Homo sapiens: one gene and its partner. The protein of the gene in region 1 interacts with the protein of each later gene in a biochemical or structural test. Each region holds a gene or a part of one and is shown on either strand. Other genes may lie near its edges.

Region 1 (7,579 bases):
CATGTCCTGGCTTAGAACTTTTATCTCTCCTCTTCAGCATCATTTCATACCCTTCCATTCTTTTCTAACACATAAACTTGCAGTGCTTTTTGCTGTCTCAGGACCTTTCACATTTTCTACCTGGGATGCTCTTAACCCCATTCTTCACCTTAGTAACTTTCATCTGTCATATTTAAGCTTATAGATTACCTCTTTAGAGGGTAGAAACTATAGTCACTTTAAGCACTCTGGGTTAGAAATAGGCACATAAACTGACCCTTTACACTTGTCAGTCCAGCTGACACGTTCAGAATTGGAGGAGGGAAGGGAATATTGCTTCATTTAGTGCAGCATCCTGTGGCATAGTAAGTCAATATTTTTGAAGAAACAGAAACTAGCTTCTGTTTTCAAAGCTTGAAGGAAAGTGAGGAGGGGATCTGTTACAAGACTATGTCTTCTCTCCACTGAACACCTAGTGCAAGTAATGTATTTAGTAGGTTTTGATTACTTATAAATATTTCACAAATTAATAAAATTAGACTGAAAAAGGTTAAATGACTTCACCAACATCCCACTGCAATTAAATGTCAGCACTAAACCAATTCTATTAAATCCTACAACTCTACAATGCTTAATAATTTGGCATTAATGAAGGAAAGAAAAAATTATTAGTGCAGAAGCTATAATCACAGAGAGAGTCATTTCTTCATCTTGCAGAATCTGTTTCTCAGAATACTTATACCCCATTGCAACTTTCTAGTAAAAGTCAGATGGAAAAATCAGTTACTCTTTAGCTGAGATAAAGGTGTGCCCCTGTATTTTGTTGACAAATATCTTGATGTGGTAGAAATAAAACTACAAACAGGGTAGGTGGATTGTATTCTTTTTATCTTTTTCTCATTAACTTAGTTGAGATTGTGTGCACCTTTAAATACCAGAAAATTCTAGCAGTAGCTTAAACAAATGAGGGAAGGGTGATTTTCTCACACAAGAAGTCCAGAAATAGGCAGTCCAGAACTGGTTCAGCTGCTTCCCCATTTTTAGAAGGTTGGCTTTTGCCTTCCTGCTTCTTATTTCATGGTCACAAGATGGTTATTATTTCTCCGAGCACTAGCTGTAAGGGGCAAGGTATAAAAGCATGAAGGGATATATATGCTGTCTTTGTTAGGTGGGGCCTCTGAGAAACTTTTTACAATAATCAGACTTCTTGTGTCTTAGTGGCCAGAACTGTATCACATGGTCACTTGCAGCTAGAAAATGACAAGGGAGACAATGCATGTCATGTTTCTTTCATTTAATATCTTTCAGCATGATAGTCTAGGTACCTAAAATTATAATAATGTACCTTTTAGATTTACATTGGTGCAGAAGCATACAGTGGAATTTAACCAAGTGGCGATGGCTAATTCAGATGGATCCGAAGCTATGCTGAACAGAGTGATGACAAAAGATAACATTGGTGTCGCTGTGGTATTAGAGGTCCACAAAGAACTATTTGGAGCAGGTGAGTGCAATGTAAAATATTCTTACTAAAAATAAACACCATCCCAAGTTTTTCCATCTCAAAACAAGTGAAGAGAATTTTGCCGTTATTTATTGCAAAGTTATTTTCTTTTGAGGAAAGTTAAGGGAGATGGGCAGGAAAATAGCACCATTGTGTAAAGCATCATATATTTGTTGGGATATTTTGTGCTCTCTATCACAGTCTTTTTTACTTACCAGATAATCTATGTAAAGTCTTTTTTAATATGCCATTAATCCCAAACAGTTCTTTTAAATAGGGAATATTTTGGTTAGGCTGAATTTAGAAATTATGATGACTTGGCCCTCTTTTTGAATTATATTTTTAGCTTGAGTGTGATTCTTTTGTCTTTAAGGTTAAGGACTTGGCACATTTCCTCTAGTTTCTTTGTTATATCTCAGTCATTGTCAGGGTAAGAGCAGGATCTTTTATCTACATGGTACTTACTTTAGCATTTTAGATTATTTATAGCTTCCTTCAGAGTCAGAAACTCATTATGTACTTCATACACAGACCTTTTTTATCCTTCTTACTGCCTGCCTTTGAGCATCTCACTGTTTACTAGTACATTTTAAGCAAGAAAGGAGTGAGACTACATCAGGGCTTTTTTTCCCCTGTACTTTTTGTAGAGGAAAAGATTATTTTGGACTAGAGTATTGATTTGAATTATTCAGACCATGCATATGTGTCAAACCTTCTTTTCTCACCATACTTCAATTTATTCCTTATCAAAGGTAATCTTTGATATGAAATTTTGGACTTTTTACTTTTCTTAGCCCCTCCGTTTTTATTTACCTTTATGTCCTTTACAATCTTATTCTTCCCAAAGTTTGGTACTTTTTTTTCTGATATTGTGGAGAATATCTTTTGGAGTTTTACTCCTCTTTTAATTTGCGGAAGAGTAATTCTAAATAGTAGAGACTTTTACGTTCTGAAATACATATCTCTTGTACTCATAGAAGGGGAATTTAGTAATATAGTGCTTATGGCTCTTTGAAGGGGAAAATTTTTAATATTGTGAATACTTAATCTATAGCTAAAAGTGACACTGTAAAACTGGGAAAAGAAGATCGCTTAGAAGATTTGGCTACAGACATTTATGATCAAATTGCTTTTAAGGTGACTATGTCAGATATAACAGATACTTCAGTTTCTTATTTTCTCAACATTGAAGATAATTATAGCTTGGTGAGACTGGAAAGAAACTTTAACAAACTAGTAGACTTAGAAAATTAGGTCTTTTCCCCCAAAGCTTATATTCCAATAGAAAAATTTGAGACGCTTCTATAGAAATTATAAAAGAAAAATTAAATTTGTATGTTTACGGATAGTCCAATGGTTTAAAGGTATGTAAAGTAAAAAGTGAGAGATCCCTCATGTCATTCATACTCTAGATTATAGCTCTTGTTGATTTCTCTATAGAGTTACTAACATACAGAATGTGAGTATATGTATTAATAGTTTTATATCTTGAATATTTTATGGACATCTGTCAGTAAATGTTAACTATGTTTAATTTTCAAAAATCTTAATGTATTCCATCTACCATTTGGAAAGTACTATGTTAATGTTTATTTTAACAGAATTAAAAAACATAGAATTATAGGAATAAAAAAAAAACCTTAGAGATATTCTAGTTGAATATTTCACTTCCCAAAAGAATCTGGTTAAATTACTGACCCAAAACTACATAAAATAATTAGTAAGAAAGCCAAGTCTAAAACCCACGTGTCCAGACTTTTATAGCACACTACTCTCTAATTCTGATTTTAAAAATAATGTTATTTCGGTATATGGTGTGAATTTGTTCAGGTAGCAGATGACTTTCTTATTTTATCTTATATAGGTTAATATAATTTACTGCCTTTACTGCTGACCTATCACAGTTGTGCTGTGTTGTGCTTGGGAAATGCAAGGTGAATGAGTACTAGACAGTAGTAAGAATTTAAATTGAGGTTTAGGTAACTCAACTGAAAACCTGCCTTACTACATTATTGTGCTATTTAAATGACAGATATTTAAAGGGCTATACCAAATTTGTGGGCCAGATTTAGCCCATGGGCTACAGTTTGCCAACTTGATCTAGGAGAGTAATTCCCATAGTAGGATTACCAGAATCTCAGCCCTTTAGCTTCTAAGAATTACTTTATGAGATAAAAGGGAAGTTATAAATTCATGGAAAAGAGTAAAGAAGTAGCTGTGGATCATATTGAGAAAACCTGAGGATGCCACATTTCTTCAAACATAAAGCATAACTTTGTCTTCTTTTTGTAATGTTTAAATTTAGGTATGAAGCCTATTCATGCTGCAGACAAACAGCTGCTTATAGTGGCAAATGCCCACATGCATTGGGACCCAGAGTATTCTGATGTGAAGCTCATCCAGACCATGATGTTTGTCTCAGAGGTTAAAAACATTCTGGAGAAAGCCTCTAGTAGGCCTGGAAGCCCAACTGCAGATCCTAATTCCATCCCGCTGGTGCTATGTGCAGATCTTAACTCATTGCCAGATTCAGGTATTTATAATATCATTTCCTCACTGCTTTCAATTTCACTTTTACTCTTGGTTCAAAGGCCAGCTAGCTCCTAAATTTTGAGTAGATAAATTAAGGAATGTATCATAAGAATTCCATGGATGGGACACAAGGTAATAGAAGAGAGTTTAATAAAGAAGCTATTACCAAAGGTGTTGCCTGGTTTAAGGGAAACAAAGCAATAAATGATGCAGTACTCTGCCACTAGGGGATTTAGTAATAGATCTCTTTACCACTCCTCTACCTAAAAGGGAAAGTGGTGGGAGCTGTCTGTCATTAGAACTTGGAAAAAATACAGTTGTAGGAAAGGGCCACATAATAGGAGTGATGGCTTTGAATTGCATGAAGCGGTCAATCCCTGGCAAACCAAAAAGAAGGGAGCCAGGGAAATATATATTCTTACCTCACTCTGCTTCTGTCCTTTCATCTCCTGCTAGGCTGCCCATTGATCAAATCCAACCAAAAGCTAGAGCGGGGAGGGATTTGCAGTTGATGCAATAAAGATCAGCTGCCTGAGGCACAGAGTGTACTGCAGAAGGGTGATCTGAAGGGGCAGCCAGAAAATATTCATTACGTGTAGCTCTCTAGTTTAATAATGTTAGCAACTTTTAAGTGAATTCATTAAATGATATTTGGATAATGTTAGTAGTTACAGAAGAATGATCAAAATTATCCTAGGGCTTCATATTACTTCTTGAGCTCCACTAAACTACTTTATGTCTGAACTTTTATCATTTTACTTTTTATAAAAATAATTTCTGCATTTTAGGTATCAAATGGAAAACATTAGACTATTACTCTTTTGCCAATACCAAAGCATATGCTAAATTTTGTATATTATCACTGCTAGGCTATTTTAAGTTATTTAAAGTAAGTAACAATAAGGTTACTATAAGATAACCTAAATGCCTACACTTGGAATATTAAAAAAAAGTCACTGAACTTGAAAACATCTTTTTCTTCTTAGCAAATAATGCTGAAATCATTGTTTATAAGTGTTTGTCTTTAACCCCTAGCCTAATTGGCACTTTAACCACATGCTCCTTTCTTAATCCTTTCTTAAGTTGAATTACTCTCAAGTGCAAGTTTTTCTCCCATTGTATTTGATTTGTTAAAACCAGTTAGTTGTCATTTGGCAACACAACATAGTGAAATGACTTTGGTACCAGACTGTCATGGTTGGATCCTGATTTTGCTACTTATGAACTATGCAATCTGTGACTAAGTTCCTCATTTTTCCTTTTTTTTTTTTTTTTTTTTTTTTTTTTTTTTTGAGACAGAGTTGTGCTCTTGTTGCCAAGGTTGGAGTGCAGTGGTGCAGTCTTGACTGCAACCTCTGCCTCCCGGGTTCAAGCAATTCTCCTGCCTTAGCCTCCCAGTAGCTGGAATTACAGGTGCATGCCACCACGCCCAGCTAATTTTTGTATTTTTAGTAGAGACAGGCTTTCACCATGTTGGCCAGGCTGGTCTCGAACTCCTGACCTCAGGTGCTGGATCCGCCCACCTCGGCCTCTCAAAGTGTTGGGAGTTTTACAGGTGTGAGCCACCGCACCCAGCCTAGTTCTTCATTTTTAACAAGGGGGGAATCATGTTATCTACTTCATAGAATTGTGAGATTTACATGAATAAAGCACTTAGAACAGTGCCTGGCATGTAGCAAATACTAGACAAATGATAGTGCCTTCTGAGCTATTTACAATACTGATATTGTGCTTATCACACATTCATTATATCTTACTATCAATCCTTATTACAAATAGAAAGATGACTCTAACAGTGCACTAATCATCATAAGGGTTTTGATACTGTTTTCATGTTTGCTAATTCAGTGGAAGCAGTGCACTTTTCTGAATGCTATTCTTCTCTTCAGCCTTGTATTTTTAGCCAAGTGGTATACTTCTGGCATATAATATGCTTTATAGTGTCAGACTGAGAAAACTCACTCTAGCTCAAAATAAAGAATGATATTGTCTAGCTGACATTAGACATTGAAATGTTGAAGATGCAAAATCTGTTTTTGTTGTAAACTATTTTTATTAATATGCTCTACTTATATATTCGCAAAGTTGTTGATTGCTTAGAATGGGGAAATACTAAAGAGATAGTGGTTTGGAATAATTTTCCAAAAACATTTAGGGTTAATACCTTCCTGGTGAATGCCATCCTAGGTCCTGGAAATCATCTTTAGCCTGAAAAACCACTAAGAAAACTAAGGATATCTTTGAGTGTTCCTGATATATTTTGTTCTGAAATAGGCAAACATCCTTTGATTCATTTGCTTGACTCATATGAAATGGCTGGTATTTGATTTTTTATTTTTAAACAACAACAAAAGGCAGTTTTATATGGCTCAACCTAAGAAGACCACTCTGAGCCTGGTGGATTAACCTGGTAACAAGTCTTGGCTGTGAAGCCTTGTGTAAGGTCTAAATGCTAAATGGAAGTGTCTCTTCTTTATTCTACCAGGTGTTGTGGAATACTTAAGCAATGGAGGAGTAGCTGACAACCATAAAGACTTCAAGGAACTAAGGTACAATGAGTGTCTTATGAACTTCAGCTGCAATGGAAAGAATGGAAGCTCAGAAGGGAGAATCACACATGGCTTCCAACTTAAGAGCGCCTATGAAAATAACTTGATGCCTTACACCAATTACACCTTTGATTTCAAAGTGAGTGGCAGCCTTTGGGCAGGTGTAGAAATTATTTCAGATACAAGCATGTAACAAAAAAGGTGTAAATTCTTTATGATTAATTGTATAATCTTCAGGAATTTTTAGATTCTTAAAATGTCTAGGCTAAGTATGCACCTAAATATAAGTAGGTTTATTGGGTTTTGTGGCTATTGTTGTCTTAAATTCTTCTTGCTCTCTTGCTTGTTTAGATTTCAAATAATATAATAACAAAAACTTCTAAAATGCTCACTAGGTACCAGGCACTGGTCAAAGCACTTTGTATATATCAATATAGTTAACCCTCACCTGCTCAAACCATCCCTAACTTTCAGCAGTAACCTCCCTCCCCTAACCTCCCGCCCCCCACAGAAAAGCACCGAATATAGCAAAACTCACTTTGAATGAATTTATATAGTATTTTCTCAAGATTTTCTTTCTACTTTCCATTGATATCTTAGTATCTTTAAGTTTTTCAGGTTATTTTTGGGTATGGGGTTAGAGCAGGTTGTACTTTGGTTCTACTTTATATCTGTGTATTTATACTAATATATTCCTAGGCAGTGGGACACTCTAAAAGGAAAAGAAAGACATTTTTTGACAAATATGAAAAAAAATGGAAAGGCTGATTGTACAGGACCAGCTATTCTTTAGAAAGACAGATTGTGGTGGCTTTATGTAATCTCTTTCCCAGTGCTAGTTTTCTGATCACTCTGTGTACCTGTAGCTCTGCTATTATACCTCTCTTTGACTTTCTGGCATTTCAGGCATCTATAGTAGAATCTTATACTATCTGGAAAAATCCAAGTGTTAGAAAGTGGTTTGGTATAAGAAGCCTAGAGGAAATTTAATAAAATACCAAAGGAAATTTACAAA
Region 2 (3,647 bases), on another chromosome or scaffold:
TCAGCCACTATCATCGATCTGAGAAGGTGGATTACAAAGACTAGAGAGAGCCTATTCAGCATGTGGTGGCCTAGCACAGTTCCTTGAAATGATGGAAGGAGCTAATTACTCTTGACTGGGGAAGGAAGTCCAGGGCAAGCTGCCCTCCAGTCTTTGAGGGTGGAAAGCATAGCACCGCAGAGAAGTTGAGGTTCATTAGAGCTGGGAACACACCCAGGGGAGCAGAGCAAGGAGGGATATTTGAAAATGTGTAAATGCCTGAGGCCAGGCGCAGTGGCTCATGCCTGTAATCCCAGCACTTTGGGAGGCTGAGATGGGCAGATCGCTTGAGCTTTGGAATTTGAGACCAGCCTGAGCAACACAGTGAAACCCCATTTCTATTAAAAATACAAAACTTAGCCGGATTCGGTGATAGGTGCCTGTAATCCCAGCTACTTGAGAGGCTGAGGGACGAGAACCGTTTGAGCCTGGGAGGCAGAGGTGACAGTGAACTGATATCCAGAGTGAAACCCTGTCGAAAGAAAAAAAAAAAAAGAAAGAAAAAGAAAGAAAAAAGAAAAAGGAAGAAAGTAGAAAGAGAAAAGGAAAAAAGAAAACAAAGAAAAAACGTGTTAAGTGCCTGTGTTAAAAAGTTTACCCTGACTCTTGGTGGCTCTGCGTGACTAGAAAGCCCCGAGCCATGGGCCCAGCATGGTCAGCTGCAGGTCTGTGCCAGACAAAGGGCAGCATCCAGGCACTGGCAGTCGGGATTAAGACCGAGAAGTAAGGGTGGCTTAGGGAATAGAGCTGTATTTATTTAAGGACTAGGCAAAGATCCAAACCACTTTAAAAAATTTTAAATCAAACACTTTATTTCCACATAACAAGCGCAAAAAACTCCCAAACACTTTAACAATACAATTAACGCAGTTATGAATTATATACTACTCAAAGCCCCAAGGTCAGAAGGTCAATCAGCTTAACGCTCCAAACATTTCCAGACATGGTTTTTCAAAGCTACCTTTGGTTTTTGGAAAAACCAGTATGGAAGTCAATATACATTGAACGCACTGAATAACATTTGCTTATAGTAAGGTGTCCGACAACATTAGCTCACACCTGGCAAGTTGGAGCATGATCTGAAGTCATACACTGAAATCCATACACAGGTTTCGCCCCCGAGCTCCTGCAGGGAGAAGCGAGGGCCGTGAAGGGGGAAGAAAAGGCCAGTCCGGGTGTGGCGTTTCTCGCTTTGTAACAGAGGTATGAGAGTTTAACACTAGTACACTGTCAAGTCATTAAGCTTCATGTTCCACATGGTTTCTTGCTGAGGCTTGAGATGGGCACAAATGGTGGGGAAGATGAAGTCACAGAAGAGTTTTGAGCAACAAGATCCCAAAGATGCTCAGAGAGGGTGGGAAGGAGCAAGCTACAGTTTCCCATTGTTCTCACATTATTTCAGGGTGAAATTGTGATGAGTTCAGATAAAATGTTCAAATATTTGCTTAGATTTTTAATCGGTTGCTCTATGAGAACCCTCATACATAGCAACTTTGAAACTTTCATTATAAAAAAGAGCCTACAAATAAATTCACAAAAAGGAGACAATTAATGTTGAGCAGCCAAAAAGTCATGGTTTATTATATCTGAAGAAATTTCATAATTCAAACACAACCAAACTGTACATTTTACAATCACATTCTATTTGTAAACAGTTAAAAGCCACTGACTTCTTTTGCATCTTAGGACACAAACAGTTAGAATCAAGGCAATGATATGATGGCAAATTCTGTACTGTTAAAATTTTTACCCTTGTTTAGTCTCTCTTCTTTGACTAAGCAAGCATTATAATACCATTTGTGGGCAAAAAAAGGGGGGAGGAAAGAAAGTTTAAAATGGTGTAACTCGTTAGTTTGCAACAACATTTAAAATTTTCTTTATACAACAAACAACTCTGTAAGCCCAATACCTTGGTTACAGTATGCATAGTTACTGATTTCGGCTTTAAGGTACAACAGTTAAACATTAACACAGTCACGAGAGAGCAGAAACATATGGAGCCACTTGATGGGATTACAAAAAATTATTACCTATTGATTATTAGCAAACCATCATCACTCACTAATAAAAAGACAGCATCTGAAAGCAGAATGTCAAACTCCAGCTTTAAGCGTTTTTTTGTTTTTTCTTTTTTTTTGGCAGAGAAAATTCTTTAACAGAGCAATATGTAGTATCAGTGCTAAAAGTTGGGGTTTTTCTTTTTTTCCTCTAAGAAACTACAAGGAATTTTTTTTTTTTTTTTTAAACTGGGGAACTGGTTTTCCTGAGAACCATGCTCTTTGATTTGGGACAGGAATAGAAAAACAAAAGAACATGGCCAAATGCTGCTCCTTTTTCCCAGAGATAGAAAGCATCTTTTAAATCATCCTCCATTTTTTTTTTGTCTTTTACATTTTTTTTAAATGATGGAAGAGTAAACATTTTTTTTTCTCAAAAAACAAACAAAAAAATCTGTAAACAAGAAGGTTCAAAGTGAGAACCTCCAAAACAAAATGGAAAGCCTATTCAAAGTGCAGGGCCCGTCCTGGGTGGCAGGTGGGCTGCAAGTCACAGCTGTGGCCACAGTTTTTCAAACTGCAGAGCGAAATTCTTTAGTTTTACAACATGAAAAAACTGGTGCAACACTTTCATTAATAATCCTAAGTCAGCATCCTAACTTGATCTTTTAAACTCCACGATACCACAATAAGGTAGGCAACATCAAGGCATAGTAGAGAGCGCACGCCTCCTAAGAACACCCTTGAGTAAACATTGACACTGGGACAGCTGCCCCCCATACTGCCGATGAGACGGAGAGAACATCATTCAGTGCAAAGGGAAAAGCTCATACGTTATCAGCCCAAAAAATGGTTTTGCAAGAGAGAAAAAAAGGGGCGGGGGGGGGGGTTGGGGAGGAATAGAAGGAAAAAAAAAAAAAGAATCCAAAGGCTAAACATGATGAATAGACACAAGCGAGCTCATTCTCTACGGTTTAGCATGTATGGCGCTATTTGGGAGTGTAAATAGAGTAGATACCTTTTCACATTATAATATTGGCCTGCATGATTCAAGTATTCAAACTGATATGTTTTGGGGAAAACAAAGTGGAAAATGTGCAGAGAATAGCTGTTCCCACAGGCGGCCCCTGGCTGCAGGCGGCGAGCCCCACTTAGTGCTCCTTTCCCTCGCGTCTGAGGTCCCGGTCGGTGAGTCTGCATCTACACTGTTACATGGACTCTCCACCCCCACCCAGGTGGTCAACAGAAAGAAAAGCGTTAATGGGAGATGGGCTGCTAATTCCTCGGGGGTCGCTGCTGCTTGGGGGACCCCACAGGCTTGTGGAATAATGCGGGGTCCCCCAGAGTGAAGTGCCGTGAAGGTCTCCACAGTTAGTTCCCGACAGCCCAGCACCATTCCAGTGATTGAGATCGGTCCGGCTGGAGAATGAGTGGGAACAGTCGAGGGAGCCCAGCCGGCTCTGGCTGGACCCGAGAGACTGCCAGCCGGGAGAAGGGGTCAGAGACTGGCTTTGTGCAAAGAAACGACTGATCTCCTCTTCACTGGCAAACTCAGCAAGAATAGTAGTGTTCCCCAGTACACACCTAGAGGAGAGAGGCACCGCGGACACG

Evidence for each region.
Region 2: the proteins of CNOT6L (region 1) and TNRC6A form a complex in vitro, tested with the Homo sapiens proteins (one study listed by BioGRID).

Annotation. Positions count from the first base shown.
Region 1 is NC_000004.12:77,725,291-77,732,869, reverse strand, and holds part of CNOT6L (CCR4-NOT transcription complex subunit 6-like), read left to right. Parts: intron 1-1,331; coding exon 1,332-1,483; intron 1,484-3,788; coding exon 3,789-4,016; intron 4,017-6,500; coding exon 6,501-6,703; intron 6,704-7,579. UniProt on the Homo sapiens protein: Has 3'-5' poly(A) exoribonuclease activity for synthetic poly(A) RNA substrate.
Region 2 is NC_000016.10:24,823,405-24,827,051, reverse strand, and holds the end of TNRC6A (trinucleotide repeat-containing gene 6A protein), read right to left. Parts: intron 3,621-3,647; coding exon 3,245-3,620; 3' UTR 834-3,244; downstream 1-833.